6 separate regions of the Homo sapiens genome follow, and regions 1, 2, 4, 5 and 6 are each linked to region 3. The links come from fine-mapping of genetic effects on gene expression. A gene starts in region 3. Each other region holds a variant in brackets. All regions are shown on one strand. Distances are from middle to middle. Region 1 has its middle 78 kb from the start of CCR1. Region 2 overlaps CCR3 (C-C motif chemokine receptor 3). Region 3 holds the start of CCR1 (C-C motif chemokine receptor 1). Region 4 has its middle 9.0 kb from the start of CCR3. Region 5 overlaps CCR5AS (CCR5 antisense RNA). Region 6 has its middle 39 kb from the start of XCR1.

What was found. PIP is the estimated chance that this variant, and not a neighbour inherited with it, causes the effect.
Region 1: its variant is fine-mapped to the expression of CCR1 in whole blood (TOPMed, PIP above 0.99).
Region 2: its variant is fine-mapped to the expression of CCR1 in whole blood (INTERVAL, PIP 0.92).
Region 4: its variant is fine-mapped to the expression of CCR1 in whole blood (TOPMed, PIP above 0.99).
Region 5: its variant is fine-mapped to the expression of CCR1 in whole blood (INTERVAL, PIP above 0.99).
Region 6: its variant is fine-mapped to the expression of CCR1 in blood mononuclear cells (TOPMed, PIP above 0.99).

What each region holds. Positions count from the first base shown.
Region 1 is chr3:46,128,367-46,132,473 of GRCh38, forward strand. No RefSeq gene overlaps it. Among named protein-coding and RNA genes, the nearest start is that of CCR1, 78 kb to the right of the region's middle. The variant G/T (reference allele first, on the strand shown) is at 1,842.
Region 2 is chr3:46,245,493-46,249,599 of GRCh38, forward strand. All of the region lies in intron 1 of CCR3 (C-C motif chemokine receptor 3), which reads left to right. Among named protein-coding and RNA genes, the nearest start is that of CCR3, 5.1 kb to the left of the region's middle. The variant A/T (reference allele first, on the strand shown) is at 2,223.
Region 3 is chr3:46,206,354-46,210,353 of GRCh38, forward strand. It overlaps CCR1 (C-C motif chemokine receptor 1), which reads right to left and starts at 1,960. Exons shown (of 2, transcript NM_001295.3): 1 at 1,929-1,960.
Region 4 is chr3:46,231,415-46,235,521 of GRCh38, forward strand. It overlaps a transcript of CCR3 not described here. Among named protein-coding and RNA genes, the nearest start is that of CCR3, 9.0 kb to the right of the region's middle. The variant C/T (reference allele first, on the strand shown) is at 2,055.
Region 5 is chr3:46,361,423-46,365,529 of GRCh38, forward strand. It overlaps CCR5AS (CCR5 antisense RNA), which reads right to left. Exons shown (of 4, transcript NR_125406.2): 4 at 2,562-3,623. Among named protein-coding and RNA genes, the nearest start is that of CCR5, 7.5 kb to the right of the region's middle. The variant A/T (reference allele first, on the strand shown) is at 1,831.
Region 6 is chr3:46,064,054-46,068,160 of GRCh38, forward strand. It overlaps a transcript of XCR1 not described here. Among named protein-coding and RNA genes, the nearest start is that of XCR1, 39 kb to the left of the region's middle. The variant C/T (reference allele first, on the strand shown) is at 2,305.

The DNA of each region.
Region 1 (4,107 bases), 78 kb before region 3:
AGATGTTCAACATTCCTAATCATTAGGGAAATGAAAATCAAAACCACAAGAAAATACCACTTCACACCCAATAGTATGGCTTTTAGCAAAAAAGAAATACACACACACACACACACACACACACGCACATACACACACCAGAAAATAAGTGTTAGAGAGTATGTGAAGAATCTGGAACCCTTGCGCACTGTTGGTGGGATTGTAAAATGGTGCAGAGGCTATGGAAAGCAGTATGACAGTTCCTCGAAAAATTAAAAATAGAATTTTCATGTGATCCAGCAATTCCAATTCCGGATATACACCCAAAAGATTTGAAAGGAAGGACTCAAACAGATATTTGTACTCCCAAGTTTATAGTGCATTATTTGCAATAGCCAAAAGGTGAAAACAACCCAAATATCTATAGACAGCTGAATGGATAAACGAAATGTGGTATATAGGTACAATGGAATATTATTCAGCCTTAAGGAAATTCTGACACTTACTTCAACATGGATGAACCTTGAAGACATTACACTAAGTGAAATAAGCCAGTCACAAAAAGAGAAATACTGTATGTTTTCACTTACATAAGATAACAAGAATAGTCAAATTTACAGAAGCAGAAAGCAGAATAGGGGTTGCCAGGGGCTGGAGGGAGGGAGGAGTTAGTGCTTAATGGGTACAGAGTTTCAGTTTGGGAAGATGAAAAAGTTCTGGAGATGGAAGGTAGTGATGGTTGTGTGATATGAGAGTACTTAGTGCCTCTGAACTGTACCCTTAAAATGGTTTAAAATGGTACATTTGATTATATATATATATATATATATATATATTACCACATTAAAAAACCTGGAAATTTGGGGCATTATATATTATGAGACTTTGGAACTTTTTTAAACCTGCTGGCTTTGGAGGGGAAGGGAGCTGGCTTTGGAGGGGAAGGGAGGGTGCTGCCGGGTTTGTACAAGGTAGAAGTTCTGTTCATGGCCCAAAATGGCAGAGCCAGTACTTGACACCATGGCTTCTAATGATAGATCTAGCTCTCTCGGATACCGAGGGCCAGCTGACGTTAGACATCATGGATTTGTGTTTTCCCTACACCTGGATGAATTTCTCTAGCAGGTTGGGCACAAAACTAGAGAAATGGGATTGCGAGACAGGGTCAAGGTTGGGTTCTTCCAGGCAGGCATCTCAGAAGAGCATACCTGGAGTATGTTCAGGGAGTGTCCAGGGGTAATGAGGCCATACCCACCTCACGTGTGGTCAATGGAGTGTACTGGTAAGGACTATGTGACTTAATCAAGAATTAAGTGAAGACAGCAAGGGGATGATAATATCCAGGGGAAATGGTGGGTCGAAGTTTCTAGGGAGTGCTTGATGGGGTGGAAACACAGGTGGGGGTGATGGTAAGGAGGATGTGCAAGAATAGGCACTATAGGCAGTTGTGGTTAGAGAAGGAGATGCTAAAGATTTCTTGATAGGGCAGATCCTGGAAGTGACAAGATTTGTGGTGTGGGTAGCTGAAAGGTGGGGGAGGCAAAGGATTTGAGGTCAAGAAATGCAAGGGCATAAAGGTAAAATCTTTCCCAAGATTACACCAGTAGTCCATGGGAGAGGTGGGACTCAAACCAGACTCAGAATCCAGAGAGGAGCTGGAGAACACGGGGCATGACCAAGGGGGTGAGGAGTGGTGGGGATGATGAGTGAGAAGGCTGGCCCAGGCAGCTCTCATGATGCTCAAAAGAGATGGGTGTTTGCATGCACAGCTTAGAAGGGAACACAGGGTGAAAGAAGGATGCTGGCCTTACAGCAACAATGTTCACTTGCAGAGTTTTTTGGTACCTCTGTGCACTGTGCCT[G/T]GTGCTAGGGACATTGAAATAAAAGATATAGGTGCTGCCCACAGGAAACACACAGTCACTGGGAGAGGCGGGCACATAAGCCCATCTGCAAAACAGAATGATACTCTGATAACCGCTGTTGGACCAAGCAGTGAGGGAGTGGCCCTGGCTGGAGTGGTGAGGTCAGGCACAGGAGGGAGGTGATGCTTAGGCACTTTGTGCGAACTTCACTAGTTGGGCCTGATGGAGCAGACGCAAGAGTGGGGTGGAAGGATACAACTGAGAAAGAGTCTGGTGTATTCAGGAGCCTCTGCGTGGCTTGGCGTGGGGAGCACCAGGACCATATGTCAGGGGATGAGGGTAGGCAGGGCCCTCACTAGGTCGTGTCTGCAGTTTGGCCTGAGTGTCATAGGAGGGGAGTGACAGGGAACAATTTGCATTTTAGAAAACGTGAAAGGGCAGATGAAAAAAATGAGCACAATGACTGCAGTATAAAATGTATTACTAGGCCGGCACAAGTAAAAATGAACAGGTTCTTAGAGGAGGATTATGTTCTCATTCCTTTTCAGGAAGTTTCCTTTATCATGACATTGTTTTTACACCAAAATGTGATTACTGTAAAAAGGGAACTGTGGTTAGTGTGAAAAGGGAACAAGCATGGAGTTACCAGAATCACATTTTCCTGACTGGAAAGAAGTCACAAGAAAACAACAGAGAACACTCACTCCATGTTCAGCATGAAGGAGAACTGCATGATCCAGGGAGGTTTAGGGGACCAAGAAGGTGGATAGGCTCTAACTGGGGCAGGCAGCAGGTGCGGCTGCAGAAAAGCGAAGGACTCCGAGCCCCGTGGTGCCTGCCTAAGAGTGAGCCAAACTCAGAAAGCCTGAGGCCCTTCTAGATGAAAGGTGACTGATGCAAAGCTTGATCCCAGATTGGATCTGGGTTATGGGAAGACAGCTCACCAGGGACTATTTAAGGGCAATTGGCGAAATGTAGACATGGAAGATGGACCAGACAACAGCATGAGATGAATGTTAAATTTCCTGATTTTGATCCTTGTTCTGTGGCTATGTAAGAGAATGTCCTTACTTTTAGAAAATACACATGGGGCATTTTTGGGAAGTTTTTAAGGGCATGGTGTCTGTAACTTACTCTCAAGCAGTTCAGGAAAATAATATATAAATTAGATATGAAGAGAAGTGAGGGGAGGAGAATAACACAAATGGGGGCAAAATATTAACATTGGTGCATCTGGATAAGATGATCTTTGGACAGAGTTCTTTGAACTATTCTTGAAACATCTGCATAAAATTTGAAGTTATATCAAATTTGAAACTTACAAAGAAAAGGCTTAGGGTTGGATTCTGCTTGGGCTGGAACATAAACTCAAGGTGAGAATATAGCCAACTTTGTGAATAGAGCAACTGAACCAATACTGGGTTTTTTGTTTTCTTTAAAAATCATTCTCTGTGGAAGATCAACTTAAATCTATTCTGCCAATATTGATAATTACTGACTAGCATGTGGTTTTATTTGCACTATCATTTTAATGGTGTTTACTTTATATATTAATTTTTGGCCTAATTAATTGGAGGCTTCCAGAAGGACGATCCCCTGGAACAATTTTCCTTGTGTTTCCCCCTTTTTGTTCTGCAAGCGTATAGCGTATGGCAGCAAGGAGGATCTCATTGCTCTCAGGGAGGGTGCAGGACACAAGGGCAGTGTGTGGCCTGATGAAAGCTGCTTGTCCTGGGAGCCCTCAGCACACAGAACTTTAGTAGAAGGGAAACCCTTTCACATCAGGAGCCAGAAGCCTTGTTAGGGGAGGGACTGCAGATATTGAGTCGAGCAAATCTGGCAGGGTGGCTTACGGTGAGAGGAAAGGACTAGTAGGCCAAGGGCAAAGGTAAATTCACCAGGGCAAAGGCAGTCTGAGCTAAATGCAAGAGCCTGGGCTTTGCTGTGTGTATGCAGGGAGATTATGGAATAGCACAGCCAAGACCAGCAGCCTCCTGGCCCAGCGACTATGGCATGGGGCCACGCCCTGGGAACGATGGAGCTCCAGGCTTGGAGCATGTGTGAGCTGAAGGACCTCCAGGTGGAGGCTGGTGGGTGGCACCTCGACAGTAGTCTGAAGCGAGCCAGAGCAGCGAGGGCCTTGCCTCATCAGCAAGCAATTGTCCCTGGGGCTGCACCAGTCAAGGCTTCAACACTGACAATGTGATGTCTCTAGAACAGAGTAGTGGTGACCAGAATAGCCCCTTCCATTCTCTCCTAGCTTATG
Region 2 (4,107 bases), 39 kb after region 3:
AAGGCATACAAAAACAAAACAAAACAAAACAAAACCTAAAATGAATCCAAATATGATTATTTTCCTTTTTTTTAACTTTTATTTTAGGTTTGGGGGTACATGTGAAGCTTTGTTACGTAGGTAAACTCGTGCCATGGGGGTTTGTTGTACAGATTATTTCATCACCCAGGTATTAAGCCTAGTAGCCAATACTTGTTTTTCTGCTCCTCTCCCTCCTCCCACTCTCAAGTAGACCCCTGTGTCTGTTGTTCTCTTCTTTGTGTTCATGAGTTCTCATCATTTAGCTCCCACTTATAAGTCAGAACATGTCGTATTTGGTTTTTTCCCTGCATTAGTTTGCTAAGGATAATAGCTTCTAGCTCCATCCATGTTCCTGCAAAAGACACTATCTGTTTTTTTATGGCTGCATAGTATTCCATGTGTATATGTACCACATTTTCTTTATCCAATCTGTCATTGATGGGCATTTAGTTTGATTTCATGCAAAGGCTATTATTTTTCATACAAAACATTCCAAGTTCTGCCAACTATGGCTGATGTTTTGGGACTGTTATCATCCTACTTCCTTCTATAGTCTAGGTTGATACTAACCCTCTTAAAATTTGGTGCCTGGAACAGAACATAATATTTCAGATGTGTAGTCTGGACAGTGCAAAGCAGAGTAAAAATTATTCTACTCCATCCTTTCATACACTTAAGAAGAGTTTATTAAGCATCTTTCATTTGTCAGGCATCATGCTGGACACTAGGCCTGTACTGTCCACTATGGTGGCTACTTGCTTTTATGCGTGTCCGTGTGAAGAGACCACCAAACAGGCTTTGTGTGAGCAACATGGCTGTTTATTTCACCTGGGTGCAGGCGGGCTGAGTCCGAAAAGAGAGTCAGCGAAGGGAGATAAGGGTGGGGCCGTTTTATAGGATTTGGGTAGGTAGAGGAAAATTACAGTCAAAGGGGGTTTGTTCTCTGGCGGGCAGGAGTGGGGGTCGCAAGGTGCTCAGTGGGGGTGATTTTTGAGCCAGGATGAGCTAGGAAAAGGACTTTCACAAGGTAATGTCATCACTTAAGGCAAGGACCGGCCATTTTCACTGCTTTTGTGGTGGAATGTCATCAGTTAAGGTGGGGCAGGGCATATTCACTTCTTTTGTGATTCTTCAGTTACTTCAGGCCATCTGGGCGTATATGTGCAAGTCACAGGGGATGGGATAGCTTGGCTTGGGCTCAGAGGCCTGACATTCCTGCCTTCTTATATTAATAAGAAAAATAAAACAAAATAGTGTTGAAGTGTTGGGGTGGCGAAAATTTTTGGAGGGTGGTATGGAGAGAGAATGGGCGATGTTTCCCAGGGCTGCTTCAAGCGGGATTAGGGGCGGCGTGGGAACCTAGAGTGGGAGAGATTAAGCTGAAGGGAGGTCTTGTGGTAAGGGGTGATATTGTGGGGATGTTAGAAGAAACATTTGTCGTATAGAATGATTGGTGATGGCCTGGATATGGTTTTGTATGAATTGAAAAACTAAATGGAATAAGAGAAGGAGAAAAACAGGTATAAAAGGTCTAAGAATCGGGAGGACCTAGGACATCTGATTAGAGAGTGCCTAAGGAGATTCAGCATAGTCCTGCCAGCAAAGATTATTTATTTACTTCAAGAGTTAAGAGCGGCGGTTTGGGGATAGCACGAGGAGATATCAGCTGTGATGGCTTGAAAAAACAGTGTAAACTGGCAGTGTAAACAAGAGCAGGGCATGTATGAGTAGTTGAGAACAGAGAACAGGAGTATGACTAGATAGAAAATAGTAGGGATGACAAGTTTTTTTGGGGCACAGTCTAAGGTGGTCCGGTGTCTGGAATGAGACTGGGGGCCTAATGAAAAGGAGCATCTATACAGGAACTTAAATGGGCTGTACCTTATAGCATTCCGAGGACAGGTCTGACTTCTGAGAAGGGAAAGTGGTGAAAGTATTGTCCAGTTCTTTTTAAGTTGGTGGCTGAGCTTGGTGAGGTGTGTTTTTAAAAGACCTTTAGTCCGTTCTACTTTTCTTGAAGACAGAGGACTATAAGGGATATAAAGGTTTCACTGAATACTAAGAGCCTGAAAAACTGCTTGGCTGATTTGACTAATAAAGGCTGGTCTGTTATCAGACTGTATAGAGGTGGGAAGGCTAAACTGAGGAATTATGTCTGACAGAAGGGAAGAAATGACTGCGGTGCCCTTCTCAGACCCTGT[A/T]GGAAAGGCCTCTACCTATCTAGTGAAAGTGTCTACTTAGACTAAGAGGTATTTTAGTTTTTGTGACTCAGGGCATGTTGAGTAAAGCTAATTTGCCAGTCCTGGGCAGGGGCAAATCCTCGAGCTTGATGTGTAGGGAAGGGAGGGGGCCTGAATAATCCTTGAGGAGTAGTAGAATAGCACATAGAATAGCAGATGGAACACTGAGAAGTGATTTCCTTGAGGATAGATTTCTACAATGGAAAGGAAATGAGAGGTTCTAAGAGGCAGGCTAGTGGCTTGTACTATAGCATAGCCTGCCTTTGCTGGTGTGTGGTGATTAGGCCTGGTGGAACTGCCATCAATAAATCAAGCATGATCAGGGTGAGGAACAGGAAAGAAGGAGATATGGGGAAATGGGGTGAATGTCAGGTGGATCAGAGAGATACAGTCATGAGGGTCAGGTGTGGTTTCTGGAATAATGTGGGAGGCTGGACTGAAGTCCGGGCCAGGAATGATGGTAATTGTGGGAGACTTAACAAAGAGTGAGTACAGCTGAAGGAGCCAAGGAGCAGAAAGTATATGCATCAGGTATGAGGAAGAAAATAGATTTTGGAAGTTATGAGAAATGTAGAGAGTGAGTTGAGCATAGTTTGTGATTTTTAGGGCCTCTAAAAGTATTAAAGCAGTGGCAGCTGCTGCATGCAGACATGAGGGCTAGGCTAAAACAGTAAGATCAAGTTGTTTGGACAGAAAGGCTACAGGGTGCAGTCCTGGCTCTTGTGTAAGAATTCTGACTGCACTAACCATGCCTAGGAAGGAAAGGAGTTGTTGTTTTGTAAGGGATTGAGGTTTGGGAGATTAATCGGACAGGATCAGCAGGGAGAGCACGTGTGTTTTTATGAGAATTATGCCGAGATAGGTAACAGATGACGATGAAATTTGGGCTTGACTGAAGTAATGGGGGCTGTCTGTGAAACCTTGTGGCAGTACAGCCCAGGTAATTTGCTGAGCCTAATGGGTGTCAGGGTCAGTCTAAGTGAAAGCAAAGAGAGGCTGGGATGAAGGGTGCAAAGGAATAGTAAAGAAAGCATGTTTGAGATCCAGAACAGAATAATGGGTAGTAGAGGGAGGTATTGAGGATAGGAGGTTATATGGGTTTGGCCCCACGGGGTGGATAGGCAAAACAATTTGGTTGATAAGGTGCAGATTCTGAACTAACTTGTAAGGCTTGTCTGGTTTTAGGACAGGTAAAATGGGGGAATGGTAAGGAGAGTTTATAGGCTTTAAAAGGCCATGCCTTAGCAGGCGAGTGATAACAGGCTTTAATCCTTTTAAAGCGTGCTGTGGGATGGGATCTTGGCATTGAGCAGGGTAAGGGTGATTAGGTTTTAACGAGATGGTAAGGGGAGCATGATTGGTCGCCAAGGAGGGAGTAGAGGTATCTTATACTTGTGGGTTAAGGTGGGGGAATACAAGAAGAGGACGCAAAGGAGGCTTTGGATTGGGAAGAAGGGCAGCAATGAGATGCGGCTATAGTCCAGGAATAGTCAGGGAAGCAGATAATTTGGTTAAAATATCTCGGCCTAATAAGGGAACTGGGCAGGTGGGGATAACTAAAAAAGAGTGCATAAAAGAGTATTGTCTAAGTTGGCACCAGAGTTGGGGAGTTTTAAGAGGTTTAGAAGCCTGGGCATCAATACCCACAACAGTTATGGAGGCAAGGGAAACAGGCTCTTGAAAAGAAGGTAATGTGGAGTGGGTAGCCTCTGTATTGATTAAGAAGGGGATGGACTTACCCTCCACTGTGAGAGTTACCTAAAGCTCGGCATCTGTGATGGTCTATGGGGCTTCCGAGGCGATCAGGCTGTGTCAGTCTTCAGCCGCTAAGCCAAGAAGGAGTCAG
Region 3 (4,000 bases):
GAGAGATCCAATCAGCCCTCTTTCTGGAGAGAGTCAGGCTAACGGTCACTAACAAAGCTGTGTTGGCAGTTTCTAATTTCTGCAGCCACAGCCATTGCTGATGAGGGCAGACAGTTCGGTTTGATAGTCAGCACTTTTCGGTGGGCTGGCAGGTTAACAGTGGAAGTATGCAAATAGCTTGGAAAGCACAAAGAGCAGCTAGTGCAAGCCTGATCCCATGAGTCCAGTTTCTGGGAAGGTTTGGCAAAGGCAAAGGCAAGTTGAGTCAACATTGTCAGGTGGCATTTTAAACCGAGTCACCTCCATACACCCCCTACCTCCAACCCATTTGTTATTTCCCCAACTTGTTAAGCCCCAGGCAACCACTCCAAGGCATGCTGTTCCTAAAGGGAGGTGATCTGGGGTGGGGCCCGAGAAGAGAAACCAAAGGACCATGTTGTCATCTAATCTGCCAGCCCTGCTGTAGTCTACTGCAGAAGTCTGCCTCAAGGCCACTGCACAGTGGTCAGCTATAGCCCTGGATCCTGGACCCTCCACTGCTAGTGTCCTCCAGCCTGGGAGTTGGTGAAGTCTCTGAGCAGAGATAGAGCAGTCTGTGATGGTGAAAGACACCCAGGCCTATGGTGCGCTGGCTGGCTTATACTGGTTTATAAATGCCAATTGCGTGCATCTCTTCCCCACTCCACATTCAGCATGTTGGTAGCTTGAAACTGACCACAGTGGGGGCATTTATACCATGAAAATCAACAAATGTTATAAAGCAGGGATCTTTTCTTCAGAAGAGTCAGTTGTTGAACATTTACCAGCACATCACTGCCCAGGCCCCACATTCTGAACAGTCCAGCACTGTCCCACTGCTCGGTGCGGGAACTAAAGGATCAGTGAGTGGCACATAGCCTGGTGCCAGGTTGTGCAAACTTTTGGGAGTTTCCATCTCTTCTTTGAAATCTGGGACCCACCAAGACCACCTATGAAGTAGATACCTATACGGAGCCACCATGCCCCTCTATCTTCAGAACAAAATCCTGACCTGTGTCTTTGTTAGTAGAGCAGAACAGATGCCCCCCAAGATCACCTGGCCAGCTCCTTGCCTTTGGGTGAGTGAAAGCCTACCTCTTCCAAAGATAGCAGTGCCAATTTTGAGGATCCTTGGTTCTAGTCTTCTTAAGAGATAGGTTCAGTATCAAATCATCCTTGCATCTGCCAAGATTTTTCTAGCTAATATTTCCCTCTTGCTATAATTTCTTCATACACCATGTTTGGTTTTCCTTTACATGGGGGAATTTGGCAAGCAATTTTTTTTTTTTTTTCAGACAGACTCTTGCTCTGTCGCCAGGCTGGAGTGTAGTGGTGCAATCTCAGCTCACTGCAACCTCCACCTCCCGGATTCGAGTGATTCTCCTGCCTCAGCCTCTTGAGTAGCTGGGACTACAGGCATGCGCCACCATGCCCGGCTAATTTTTATTTTTAGTAGAGACAGGGTTTCACCATATGGCCAGGATTGTCTCCATCTCTTGACCTCATGATCCACCTGCCTCGGTCTCCCAAAGTGCTGGGATTACAGCCGTGAGCCACTGCGCCCCGCCAAGTAATTTCTTATTGAATAGGTTTCCACAGAAAACACCTTTTGTCCCTTAGTACTGACTGACTTTCTTAATCAGTAACCAAAAGCCAATCCTTCAAGTAAGCTTCCTTTTTAGCAAAAAAGCCTATATTTCATCTGAGCACCCAGCTTTATAAATCCACCATTCTCAGTATTGCTACAGTATTAATTGCCTTGGAGATGCATCCATGGGCTACTTAGACATTTGCCCAGCCTACTCAAAGAATTCCCCCTACCTTTGAGGAGCCCCTAGCTGCATGCATGTCTTTGAACAACACTGCCCTCCACAGTAACAGATAAGACAGAAAAGACAAGTGACACTTACTCTGGTTCCAAGGGACTTTGTCCGTGAAGTCTTTGTTTCTGGGGCTTTCTGGGTTTTTATGAATTCAAGTTTCAAGATCCTGACCAAGTAGGAAGTACTCAGCTTCCTGTGTGATGATGGAGAATTGGCTCCAGTTTCACAGTCTTTCAAAATGACAAGAAAGGGACAAAGTTCTTCTTTTTGTGTGGTTTGGTGCTCATGAATGGCCACAACGCCCACCAGTGGCCACTTCCTGGAAGCCAAGTTAACTGCGAGGATTTTCTCTGCTCACTCTGAGCCTCTTGAGTCTTGGCCCTGGGAGCTCAGCCTTAAGGGAATTGGGGGCAGGTGAAGCTGAGTTGGGTGAGGTGGGTGGCAGTGAGATGTTCCCAGAATGTTTGGAGCAATTGAAGTGTGGGATGTGTGTATGTGGGATGGGGGCAGGGCATAGAGCTCTTGTGGTCAGCGGCAGACTTCTTTTTTTTCTTCTTCTTAAAGATTGTGAATGGAAGGATTTAAACTGGAACCCTGAGTCCTGTTCCTCAAAACTAACTGACATGGGTGCTCACAGAGGCAGCAGCTTCTCTTTGGCACCCTATGCCCCTCGGCTTCTGGGAGCTCATTGTCCCTCTGCTCTCTGCTCCCCAAGTCCCTCCCCACCAAACCTCAGAGAGTGGCTTTGCCCCAGGAACCTCCAGCATGAAGGGAATATAGGTCTGTTGGTTACATTTTGACCTTCCCTTTCTGATGCCCCATTCCTGTTTTACGTGATGGTCAAACATGGGCCAAGTTCAAATCCCAGCTCTCCACCTGTGACATGGGCAGATCACTCACCTTTCTAAGTCTTGGTTCCTACTCTGCTAAATGGGAGTATTGAATGCTTACCTCAGAGGAGAAGCACGAAGTCAACTTGTACATGAAAAATGTCAGAGTGCCTGGCACAGTGAAAAATGTCTGACAAATGATGAGTACTGTGACTCTCCTCACAACTGCCAACACCTACTCTGCCTCTGCCCTTGTGTCTTCTATAAAGTGGGGACACCCCTAACCTTCCTCACGGCATTGCTACAAAGCACTGTTTCAGAAATCATCAGTGTGAATGTGCTTTGAAAAGATCACTTGTCTCTTCATGGTTCAGTTTTCTTATCTGTAAAATGAAGAATTCAGACAAGATGGCCTAAGCTTGACATCTGATCATCACTCAGCTTCACCCCAAAGAAATAAATGGGGGTCTGCATGTGCCTGGCTATTTGCAGTACTTTGCTGGTGGATCAGTTTCCAAAGAGAACAGAGGCTTGTGAGGCCTGCCTTTTCCTTGATCCTGTCTAAAGTAAGGGACATGGTCAGTACCTCATCCTTGACCAGGCTTCCAGCTCTGCTCTAGGTTTCATTCCACAGAGGGGATGTACCAGGCAAATCTGCTTGTTCATTGAACAAATATTTATTCAGTACTCACAATGTGCCGGACATTGTGTTAGGTGCTTGGGATATAGTGGTGAAGAAAGAGGCTGGATCCATTCTTTGAGAGCTTATAGCTTAGGAAGGATCACAAACAATTAACCAAGTTACCACAATGAGGAACAGCTTTTGTAGTGGCCTGGGAAATACCCTGGGCTAAGGAAGGGTGCATCGAGGGTGGGAAGGGGTGAGGAAGTCCTTTAGAGCAGTGGTTCTCAAAGTGAGGTCCCTGGACCAGCAGCATTCACATTCCCTGGGACATTGCTAGCCATGCAAGTTCTGGGGTTACATGCCAGATATACTGACTCAGAAATCCTGGGGATGCGGCCAAGCAATCCAGGTTTTGACAAAGACTGGCATGATTCTGATGCATGCTTAAATTTGGGGGGCATGGATCTAGATTTTCTCAATGCTTTTGGCTCAGAGTCCCATGTGATCTTTCTTCAGAAGAGTTAGGCTGGACCAGCTATGAGCTAGGAAGCCTTCTTTCTCTCTTTAGCTCAAGGCCTAAACAAGAGGCTGCTCAGTTGCCTGCTCTGTCTCCCCTCCCACACCCACACTCAGGTCTCCTATGGCCTTGCAAACCCCTTAGTGCACACACCCCTCTCACCACAGCAGATGTGTACAATGGGGGC
Region 4 (4,107 bases), 25 kb after region 3:
CACAATAAGAAATATTTCTGGTTGTTACTTGTAGGAAAAGGAGCGGTTAGCTTCAATATCTATTATCTATCTATCTGTATTAGTCAACGAGCACAAAGTTTCAGTTACAGAAGATGAATAAGTCCTAGAGATGTACTGAACAGCATGGTGCCTCTAGCTAACAACACTGCATCGTATACTTAAAAATGTGCCAAGAGGGTAGATCTTACGTTAAAGTAATAATCTTGATAAATAGGACAGGAGGAAACTTTTGAAGTGATAGTTGTGTTTATGGTATAGATTATGATGAGGGTTTCACAGGGGTATATTTCTCTCCAAACTCATCAAGTTGTATAGATTAAATATGCACAGCTTTTTGTATATTATACTTCAATAAAGTGGTTTTTAAAAAAGATCCATTATTCATCCACCCCTCTTATCTTGTTTCAGGAGAAACAAGATCTATTGATCTATCCCATCTCTTTCCCTGCCCCAATGTCTCTCTTGCATTTCCAGGGGCCCATGTGACAGTGTGAGGTACCATGGAAATAAGAACTTCACATATTTTACTTGGGTAACATTATATGAATTTGTTCCTGTTTATTGGAAGTGCATTGTTTTTGCATTTAATTAGGAAGTATTTTCCATATCCTGGGGAGAAAAATGTATTTTCTGCATAATTTCTAAATCATTGTTCAATTTTTTTCTTCATCGTCATATTTATTTACTGAGTTTGATACTAGATTTTTGATGTTCTTATAAAAAAATGAAAATGAGCAAAATGAAACACACAGAATGGTTAGAGGAACAAGCAACAACACAATCCCTCACGGGAATGCCCTGAAGGAATATGTTGAAGCTAATTTGAACATGAAGGTTACGTCTGTCCAGATCTCTAAAAGCAGCCACCAAGCAGGTTTTACACAGGGAAAGATTTTGTTGGAAAAGCACCTGGGAGGGAAAGTGGGCTGGAGCAGGAAGGGCTGGGAAAGCCGGCAGAACCCCAGTGAGGTAGCAGGGGAACCAAGCGGTAGTAGACGCATCCTAGACTGTTCTGCAGCCTGAGGAAGGTTTGGCATAGCCACGTGGGGGTCCTTAAGCTAATGTCAGTGCATCTCTAGGGATTGGGCCTGCCTCAGTATCCCTGTGTGCTCAGTCATTGGAAGCACAACATTGATTTCAGAGCCTGCAGAGGGGTCTTAGGCTTTCTGGAGTGGGAGGGGCATGTTCATGGCTGCACCGGTGGTTTGCCCCATCCTTGGTGCCATTCTGGATGTGATGTTGCACTGATGGTAAATATCAAGGCCCAGATCAATGCTAGACTCTTGTTCACCTGTTATCTTGAAATCACAGGTGGCCCACCACCTCCCCCAATAGCACAGCTTCCACGTTCTCACTCCTGTCTCTTTTGTAGAATAGGCTATCTATCAGGGGAATAATCCTTTTTTGTGTTTTTCTAGATGAAGTCTTGCTCTGTTGCCCAGGCTGGAGTGCAGTGGCACAATCTCGGCTCACTGCAACCTCTACTTCCTGATTTCAAGCAATTCTCCTGCCTCAGTCTCCCGAGTAGCTGGGATTATAGGCACACGCCACCACGCCTGGCTAATTTTTGTATTTTTCGTAGAGACGGGGTTTCACCATGTTGGCCAGGCTGGTCTCGAACTCCTGACCTCGTGATCCACGTGTCTCAGCCTCCCAAAGTGCTGGGATTACTGGCGTGAGCCACTGCACCCGGCCCATAGTCCTTTTTGTAAAGCTTTCACAGGAGGGTGACGTGCTGTCAGTGGAGGGAACACAGAAATACACAGGATTGCCAACGTGCTAGAGAGGGGCCCTGCTGGCTACAAAAGTCCTTCCACTAACTTCACTAGAAAAGTGACAGTAAACACAAGTCTGGCTGGAGCCCCACATTTCTGGCCCTGGTGCCCGGGAAGGAAGGTGGGTGCATTAAAGGAAGCTTTGCACTTCTCCCTGCTGCTCTGGCAATCGTTTCCGTTCACATGCTCAAGGTTGTGGCTTGACCTATGCTCTCCTGCAAAATATTGCTGACCCTTTCCTATTTCTGAGGTTCTTTG[C/T]TTTTCCCCTCCCATGTTCCCATACTCCTAAGCTATCTTCTGCGTGTGTTGTTGTTGTTTTGGCTCTTTTTTCCCGCCCCCCAGAAATGTGTCTGCTTCAGTGTAATGTGGCAGTGAGAATCTGGGAGATTGGAAGACATTTGTGTTTGGTTGGGTTTTCCCACACACCTCTGTTTTTCCTGTGAGCTAAGAACCCCAAAAGAAGCATCAAAAATTTCTTTCCCGTGGTAGGAAAAGCCAGGACAGAACGAGCCATTCTGGACCTTGGGGAAACCACTTTGTGTTCTGGTTTCCTTCAGGTTTGATGCCATCCTCACCTTTGGCTGAAGGGCAACAGGCAACTCTTCTTCAGACGGCAGTACCATGCCGGAAAACAGAGCACCATGTGGCTAGCCCAAGCTCTGGGGTAGAGCCAGCTCTGCCCTTCACTCTCTGTGGCTTTTGCCAAGTCCCTCATTGAGTCTCAGCTTCCCCATCTGCAACACAGGGGTAAGGTAGCAGGGTTGCAAGAGCATCCTGCCACCTCCTGGGCTGCAATGGATACCCCGTCAAGGTAAGACAATGGACAGGGGGCAGTATGCCCTTGTAGTGCCTGTGCATGCATCAGGCCGGCACTGCTCAGAGTGCTCCTGAGGCATCCTGACCTTGAGAGATGTTAACACTTGTCATTTGAAAAGTATTTTTTTTCTAAGTTAAAGATAGGTTTGAGAAATGCTGGATTAGGAAGGTTTCAAACAGATTCATCACTACAGGACTTCTCAGGGGCCTTTAATGCACTGTGAATCTCCAGGAGTGTTTTCTAACAGTGCATGCTTTTATCCTAAGAGACATTAAATGTATTGGGATGGATTCATTGGTTTAATCAATGGGTAGTTCATGAGAAGCTTCAACCTGAAAGGCCTGAGGGCTCTTGATACCCAAGAAAGCCCAGGGGAGATCCTTGACATCTGTGAAACATCAGATCCAAGATCTCCCAGAGTGACCACATACCCTTTCAGAGTCCACTTGGGCTCCAGATGTTATCTGGAGCCATATTTCTACCAAGAATTTATGTGGTTGTGCTTATCCTCACATAAATTAAGCCTCGTTTTAACATTCTATAAAGCTTAGTCTTGCAATTGATGAGCACTCATTGCCCTAACTGGAGCACCCCACAAAATACCCCCTGATTTCCCTTGTTTTTATGTGGAACACACAGTAGAGTCACTCCCATGAAGATCTGAGTCACTGCTGAATTCCATATTCCTGTCGATAATTTATCCCAAATTTATGTTTTCTGCCCCAGAACCACTGCTTTTTAAGATTTCTTTATTATGGCTTTCCTTCCACCACCATCACCAGCATTTAGCTTGTTTTATGAAGAAATGAAGCTCTTTGGTTGTTTAAATCACTTCTGGGGAATTCTAAGGCTACAGTGAGTGGTGAGGATGGAGTTGACCAGGTCCACTCACCAGGTGGAGGGCTCACGCCCATGCATAGCCCCCATTCCCACATCCCACTCCCTTTCTCCTGAAGGGAGCTCAAAGGGTCTACATCTGGCTTCTCTCCACCCCTCTACTGGAGGTGGAGTGGCTTTTAAATTGGTCAGATTTGGAAAGAATAGCTGGGAAGCCTTAGCCCAGCTCTGCTCCTCTTCCTCTTGAAAGAGAGCTGCCTGTCACTCAGTAGATACATCTGTACAGTTCTGTGGTTTAATTAACAGGCTTCTTTTTTCCCTCACTCCCCCACCTACCCCCATATCTTAACTTGCTCAGATCCCAGACAATAAAGGGGGCAGGGGACAGGGAAGGGCTTCTTTCTCTCCAGAGGATACTGAGCACCAGAAGACTAAGTAGGCAATAAATGCCACAGGAGTGTGGAAAGGGAGGTGAGTACCAAGGCCTGCTACATTAAGACATAACAACACATGCTATCATGGTTAGCATTGGAGGCGCACTTCCTACAAGCACTTCTCATAGGCTAGCTCACCCAATTCTCACATCCCTGCAGGTACTATAATGATCTTCATTTATAGACAAGAAAATTGAAACTTTCACATTGCTAATAACTCACT
Region 5 (4,107 bases), 160 kb after region 3:
CCAGACTGGGTTGGAAACAGAAAGACAGATGTTAATGCCAGTGTCCTTTACACCTCCAAGTCCAGGGCCAGCTGTGGAGTGGGAGGGGTAGAGAAGGTCCTGTGCACAGTCACAGTGCGCTGTGCAGAGCAGGAACAGAGGCATCTGTGAAAAGTGCTGAGAGCCTGGAGGACAGAGTGACTAATGCAATGACAGTCTTGCATCATAGGAATAACAGCCACAGCAGGATTTTATTGCTGCCAAAGAAACTGCCATTTAAAAATTGCCAGCCATCCGGGAGGCTGAGGCAGGAGAATGGCATGAATCCAGGAGGCGGAGCTTGCAGTGAGCCGAGATCGGGCCACTGCACTCCAGCCTGGGCAACAGAGCCAGACTCCATCTCAAAAAAAAAAAAAATGCCAACCATCTCTCTTTCTAAAGTGGAATCCTCAAGTCTCGTTTATTCTGGGGACATTTGAGTAGGCTGTTCGAGTTAAGCAGGTGGAAGATGATGATCCCTCATCATCATTCTGAGGGATGAGTGTCTGAAGACTTTTTGGTAAGGAAGGGTCTTGGCATAGCCCACCCCATGCCACCTCCCTTGATCTGTGATATCCCCAGCAGCTGGGGAGGTTGGAGCATTTTGCAAAGAGGCCCCGAAGCCTCCAGAAAGTAAACCTTCAAGAGCCCATCCTTCCTTCCTCTTTTGTTTTTGCTCATTATGAAAACTTCCCTGACAAATTGAAAAGGCTTCAGGTGAGATTAGCCCACAGGAAAAACCACCAAGGGCCACCCAGAGGGGCCACACTGTGACAGAAGGAGTATGGGCTGGTGAGCTGACCTCTGGAAGACAGTGCATGAATTGAGGAGAAGAGATTGGTTCCAGGCATGGGAGGAATGAGGCTGGAAATTTCTTCAGACATTGCCACTTCGGCACTCTGTGTGTGTGTGTGTGTGTGTGTGTGTGTGTGTGTGTGTGTGTGTGTAAACAGAGTCCTGTAATGCAAGGTCCGGCCTTGGCAGCCCCAGCCTGGAGCCACAGTGAGATGTGAGCCGAGGGTTATGCTGGGAAAAACCTCTCCCTCCCAGCACCTGAAAGGCTCTGCAGGCCCAGCAGCTCAGCAAGCAAGGGTAAGGGCATGGACTAACATCTTATTTCATACTATCCCTTATAACACATCCTAATGTAATCAGCTCACAATATGAAATTATTTCATTTCTCTCCAGTCATTGTTTCAATGGGGCCTTAGGGTTGACTGGATTCTGGAGGGCCCTGCCTAGAGGAGGGGGTGCATTCTGTCCCTATGTCCCCTCCTGCTCCATCCTCCACAGCACGTGCCTAGTGGTCTACCTTGTGGGGAATTCTTGTACCTCCCTCTTCTAGGCATGGACTAGCATTGAGAAGTGGGAGAGGAGTGTTAGGAAAAAGGGCAAATATAGACATACCTTGTCTTATTGTGCTTTACAGATATTGTTTTTGTTGTTGTTGTTGTTGTTTACAAATTGAAGGTTTGTGGCAACCCTGCCTCGAGCAAGTCTATTGGTGCTGTTTTTCCAACAGCATGTGCTTGTTTTACATCTCTGTGTCACATTTTGGTAATTCTCCCAATATTTCAAACTTTGTCATTATTTCTATATCTGTTATGGTAATCTGTGATCAGTGATCTTTGATGTCACTATTGTAGTTGTTTTGGGGCACCATGAAGTGCACCCATGTAAGATGGCAAACAATCAATAAATGTTGTGTGTGTTCTGACTGCTCCATGGACTGCCTGTTCCTGAGACACAATAATGTATATATAACAATTATATATATATATATTTATAACAATTATATATATATATATATAT[A/T]TTTTTTTTTTGAGGCAGAGTCGCACTCTGATTGCCCAGGCTGGAGTGCAATGATGTGATTTCAGCTCACTGCAACCTCTGCCTCCCCAGGCTCAGGTGATTCTCCCACTTCAGCCTCCCAAGCTGGGACTACAGGTGTGCACCATCACACCCGGCTAATTTTTTTTTTGTATTTTTAGGAGAGACAGGGTTTTGCCATGTTGCCCAGGCTGGCCTTAAACTCCTAGACTCAAACAATCCACCTGCCTCAGCTTCCCAAAGGGCTGGGATTACAGGCATGAGCCACTGTGCCCAGCCCAAGACACAATAATATTGAAATTAAGCCAATTAATAACCCTACAATGGCCTCTAAGTGTTCAAGTGAAGGGAAAAGTCCCACGTCTCTCACTTTAAATCAAAATCTAGAAATGATTAAGCTTAGTAAGGAGGACATATTGAAAGTCAAGGCCAAAAGCTCACCTCTGCACCAGTTAGCCAAATTGCGACTTCACAGGAAAAGTTCTTGAAGGATATTTAAGCTCTACTCCAGGGAACATGCAAATGAAGAGAAAACAAAGCAGCCATATTGCTAATATGGAGAAAGTTTGAGTGGTCTGGAGAAAAGATCCAACCAGCCACAACATTTCCTTAAGTCAAAGCCTAATCCAGAGCAAGACTCTAACTCTCTTCAATGCTATGAAGGCGGAGAGAGGTGAGGAAGCTGCAGAAGAAAAGTTTGAAGCTAGCGGAGGTTGGTTTGTGAGGTTTAATGAAAGACAACATCTCCATAACATAAAAATGCAAGATGAAGCAGCAAGTGCAAAGGGAGAAGCTGTGGCAAGTTATCCAGAAAATCTAGATAAGATAATTGATGAAAGTGTCTACACGAAACAACAGATTTTCAGTGTAGACAAAACAGTCTTATGTTGGAAGAAGATGCCATCCAGGACTTTCACAGCTAGAGAGGAGATGTCAAGGCAAGCTGCAAAGCTCCACAGGACAGGCTGACTCTCTTTTTAGAGGTGAATGCAGCTGATGACTTTAAGTTGAAGTAAATGTTCATTTACTATTTTGTAAATCCTGGTGTCATTAAGAATTATGCGAAATCTACTCTATCTGTGCTCCATAAATGGAACAATAAAGCCTGGATGACAACACATCTGTTTACAGCATGGTTTACTGAATATTTCAAGCCCACTATTGAGAACTATTGCTCAGAAAAAAAGATTCCTTTCAAAATATTACTGCTCTGCACCATGTCGATCAAGAGCTGTGTTGGAGATGTACGAGAATATTCATGTTGTTTTCATCCCTGCTAACACAAACATCCATTCTGCAGTCCATGGACCAAGACTTTCAAGTCTTATTAAGAAATATATTTCATAAGGCTATTAAGAAATAGCTATATATATATATATAGCCTTATATAGTTTATATAGCTACCATTGATAGTGATTCCATTGATGGATCTGAGCAAAGCAAATTGAAAAGCTTCTGGAAAGTAGTCATTATTCTAGATGCCATTAGGAACATTTGTAATTCATGGGAGGAGGTCAAAATACCAACATTAACAGGAGTGTGAAAGACATTGATTCCAACCCCCATAGATGACTTTCAGGGGTTCACGTCTTCAGTGGAGGAAGTCGCTGTAGATGTGGTGGAAACAGCAAGAGAACTAGAACTAGAAGTGGAGCCTGAAGTTGTGACTGAATTGCCGCACTCTCATGATCAAACTTGAACAGATGAAGAGTTGCTTCTTACATATGAGCAGTGAAAGTGGTCTCTTGAGATGGAATCTCCTCCTGGTGAAGATGCTGTGAACACGGTTAAAATGACAACAATCGATTTAGAATATTACATAAATTTAGTTAATAAAGCAGTGGCAGGGTTTGAGAGGATTGACTCCAATTTTGAAAGAAGTGGGTAAAATGCTATCAAATAGCATCACATGGTATGGAGAAATCTTTTGTGAAGGGAAGAGTCGACCAAGGTGGCAAATTGCATTGTCATCTTATTTTAAGAAATTGCCACAGCCACCCCCAGCTTTAGCAACCACCACCCTGATCAGTAAGCAGCCATCAACATCAAAACAAGACCGCCATCCTCTTCAGCAAAAACACTATGACTTGCTGAAGGCTCAGATGATGGTTAGCATTTTTAGCAATACAATATTTTTAATTAAGGTATGCACATTGGTTTTTCTGACATAATACTATTGCATACTTAATAGACTACAGTATAGGATAAACACAACTTTTATATGCACTGGGAAACCAAAAAGGTTATTTTTGAGATATT
Region 6 (4,107 bases), 140 kb before region 3:
GTAGAGACAAAGTCTTGCTGTGTTGCCCATCCTGGTCTCAAACTCCTGGCCTCAAGTGATCCTCCCACCTTGGCCTCCCAAAGTGCTGGGATTACATGTGTAAGCCAATGTGTCTGGCCCCTAATGATTATTTAACAATAATAATACCAGTATTCAACATTGACTGAACACATATCATGTGCCAGGCACTGCGTAATTATTTGTTAGACTCTTTTAGACTACAGTCTCCATAAGGGCAGGGATCATGTCTCTGTATTGTTCATTGGTCTGTCTCTCCAGTGCCTAGGGCAGTAGCTGGCACATACCAGGAACTCAACAAACATGTATGGAGTAAAAAAATCCCACAATGAGCCTTGCAAGTTTTTCCTAGCTCTCTTGTATCATGGGAGGTTAAATATGGCTGCAAATTCTTTACTGCTCCTCCCACTGAGAGATGAAGTCCAATTCCACTCCCTTGAAATCCCTCATTGACTTGCTTGACTGATAGAATGTGGCTGGAGTGACATTCTTGGACTTGTAGCTCATAAGAAGCCTTGCAGCTTCCACCTGGGTCTCTTGGAACATTCTCACTTGGTGCTCTGACCACCACTTTCGAAGTGCGACACATGAAGCCACCATGCTGGTGAGGCCACATGCAGGAATGGTAGATGGTTCCAGCTGCGCCTAGCTCTCCAGCCTTCTCTGCTCAGCCCCAGGTATCCACCAGCTCAACAGCACCAAGGGACCCCCACTGATGCCACTTGGAAGAGTTACCCAGGGCGGGTGCAGTGGCTCACGCCTGTAATCCCAGCACTGTGGGAGGCTGAGGTGGGTGGATCACCTGAGGTTGGGAGTTCAAGAACAGCCTGACCAACATGGAGAAACCCCGTCTCTACTAAAAATACAAGATTAGCCGGGTGTGGTGGCGCATGCCTGTAATCCCAGCTACTCGGGAGGCTGAGGCAGGAGAATTGCTTGAACCAGCAAGGTGCAGGTTGTGGTGAGCCAAGATCCCGCCATTGCACTCCAGCCTGGGCAACAAGAGAAAAACCCTGTCTCAAAAAAATAAAGAAATAAAAAAAAAGGAAAAAAAAATAGAGTTACCCAGCCAAGCTCTACTCAACTTTCTGGGTCACAAAATTATAAGATCTAATAAAATGGTTCTTTTAAGCCTCTACATTTTGGGGCACTTTGTTATGTAGCAATAGTCAAAACAAGTAATATTGGTTAGGGGAAAATCCCCAACCTGCTTTTCCTTCCCACCTTCACCCATCCCGCACTTTCAGGCTCCCCTTAGGGACTGTTACCTGCAGGAGTCTTGCTAGCTTTCTAGCAACTTAACTTTGATGTGGCTTTAAGAGAGGTGCCTGAGCTTCCATTTGCCACACTCTGGGGAATCCCCCAAATGCTAACCTGTCCACTCTACAACAAGCTCCGGCAGCTGAGCTGTTCTGGGCCACCTGCCAAATATCATATGATACTCCCTTGATGTCGGGTGACAGTAAAATTCACCGACTCCTGGGTGGAGGCCCTTTTCTTTGAAGCCTGCTCTGCTCACCCAACCACACACAGCCCACTTACACGGCATCACCAATTAGAGTTGGGGAAATGCAGGTGGTGGCCCCGGGCTACACCAAGCTCCACTGCTGCCTTGCTCTCTGGGTCAGATCTGTCTCAAGCAGAGCAAATTACTGCTGGAATCACCAGGGCTGTGAGGAGCTTCAGAGAATGACCAAGGTTAGCACTTAGAGGACTGAGCCCTGGGCGGTGTGCTCTAAATGTGTGTAGGGTCCTAGATGAAGGCTTTTGGATATTTCTGGTAGCACCAAAGACTAAACAGGCATTTGAGAAGCTTGAGGCGTCTTTGCCTGCTCCAGGGCCTCCGGAAGAGGCCACGTAGGGATGTCCCTGGGGCATTTGCTAACTCATTCTCAGAGGAAGATCCGAGGAAAATATATTCACTCCCTTGTCTCACTCCTTTGCTGCTCAAGCACATAAGGGTGGGTGGAAGGAGGGAGGCTAGCGACAGCATTCCTGGTGGAGGGAGCGAGGGTAGTAAGCACAGAGTGTGTTGTGATGCAGCAAGACAGGCTCACTAGGACCAGACCATGTAGTCTCAGACATACTCCTTGGTGCTCTTGGGCACAGCCTGCCTTCCTTCCTTCCTTCCTCCCTCCCTCCCTCCCTCGCTCTCTCTCTGCTTCTTTTCTTTTCTTTCTTTTTCTTTCTTTTCTTCGGAGTCTCACTCTGTCACCAGGCTGGAGTGCAGCAGTGCAATCTCAGCTCACTGCAACCTCCACCTCCCGGGTTCAAGCGATTCTCCTG[C/T]TTCAGCCTTCTGAGTAGCTGAGACTACAGGCACGCACCACCACGCCCGGCTAATTTTTATATTTTTAGTAGAGACGGGGTTTCACCATGTTGGCCAGGATGGTCTCAATCTCTTGACCTCTTGATCCACCCACTTGGGCCTCCCAAAGTGCTGCAATTATAGGCGTCGGCCATCCCGCCCAGCCACAGCCATCATTTCTTAGTGGGAAGTTGGTGTGGACTACACTAGGTGAGGCTCCTGGCATATATAGGTTCCCAGGCTCCACCCAGACCTGTAGAAACAGAAGCTCTTTGGATGGGGCCCAGGCCTCTGCATTTGTAACAAGTGTCTAAGCAGTCATGAAGAAGGAAGCCAGGCAGAGTAGAGGTTAATTCCATGGGTCTGGAGTTAGACCACGGGGGTTTAAACCCAGGTTCTAGCATTCAGTGCCTATGCAATTTTGGCACCTCAGTTTTATTATCTGAATTGCAGATAATTATAACACCGACTTTACTGAGTTGGTGTGAGGATTAAATAAATTAATATGAGTTAGATACTTACTACATAGATGGTGGGTCCTCAATAGCTGATTTTTCCAGCAACCTGAATGATGACAGTAGTGCAATGAGGAAGCCATATACCTGCAGTACAGAGTCAGACCTCAATACATGCTTGCTGAAGGGAGGACAGGAGCATAGCATATTCAGCCAGGCCATTGGCACAATCAGGCTGTGAACATTTGTTTTCACAGCTGGGCATAGCATACCTCTAGGTGCTGGGGGTTCAAAAAGGAATACCTGTGAAGATACTTGTGAGGTCACAGATATGGAAATGGATGATTAGGAGGCAGTGTGGTAAGTTCTATGTGAGGGGCAGGCTCTGAGCATAGCAGCTTTGAAGAGGCAGGTTAGGCTTCCTGGAGGAGGTGATGTCAAAGGGGGATCAGAAGGACAAGTAGGAGTTATCCAGGGAGAGGGGGCTGAATGCCAGATCTAGGGGAATATTCATGCACTAGTGGATATTCTGGGCCATCAGGGGGTTCAGTGTGGGTGAGGTGCATGGTGTAAGAGGCAGGAACATCAAGGTTTGAGACTGGAAAGATAAGCAGCATTAGCTGGTTGGATTGAGATGAGTTGGGCTAAATTGGGTTCCATGCCTTCAGTTCTGGCCAGCTCATGTCACCCATAGCACATTCTTACCACAAAGGTCACCTGTGTGTCCTTGAATAACACTCCTCCCTGGATTAGTCAATTATACACTGCTTTGGTGCCCAGAGCTATGAAAGGTCACAGAGGCCCAAATTCCTGCCCCAGGGAACACATGATCACTTTCTATTAGAGGACTGTTAACTAACTTGGGGACCATATTTCAAAACTGTCACATGGAGATTTAGGGAAAACCTCCTGGAAGAAGTGGCTTGGCTAAGTTTTGAAAAGTGCATAGGGGTGAGAACAGGGAGAGAAGAGGAAAGAGGACATGCTGTGGAGGGGCCAGCAAACGAGAAACTCAGGAGGCAGAAAATCTCAGGTCTGATTCAAAGGACTCTGGCTCAAGAGGGGAAAGTGTGTGCTAAGATGGGTGGTGGGAAAGGCAGAGGAGGGAGGCAAAGGTCTTTGTGTGTTAAGCTATAGAATTTGAAATTAGTGTTGAATGCAGAAATAATGAAAGATTTTAAGCAGGGGAATAAGGTCATTGGTGGATTCACTAGGATGCTCTTGGCTGCCAGTAACAGAGCACATGACTAAAGTGGCTTACATAGAGGGAGGCTGATAATTTCTGTTAGGAAGGTAGTTCTAGGGCTGATGCAGCAAATTCTACCAGCC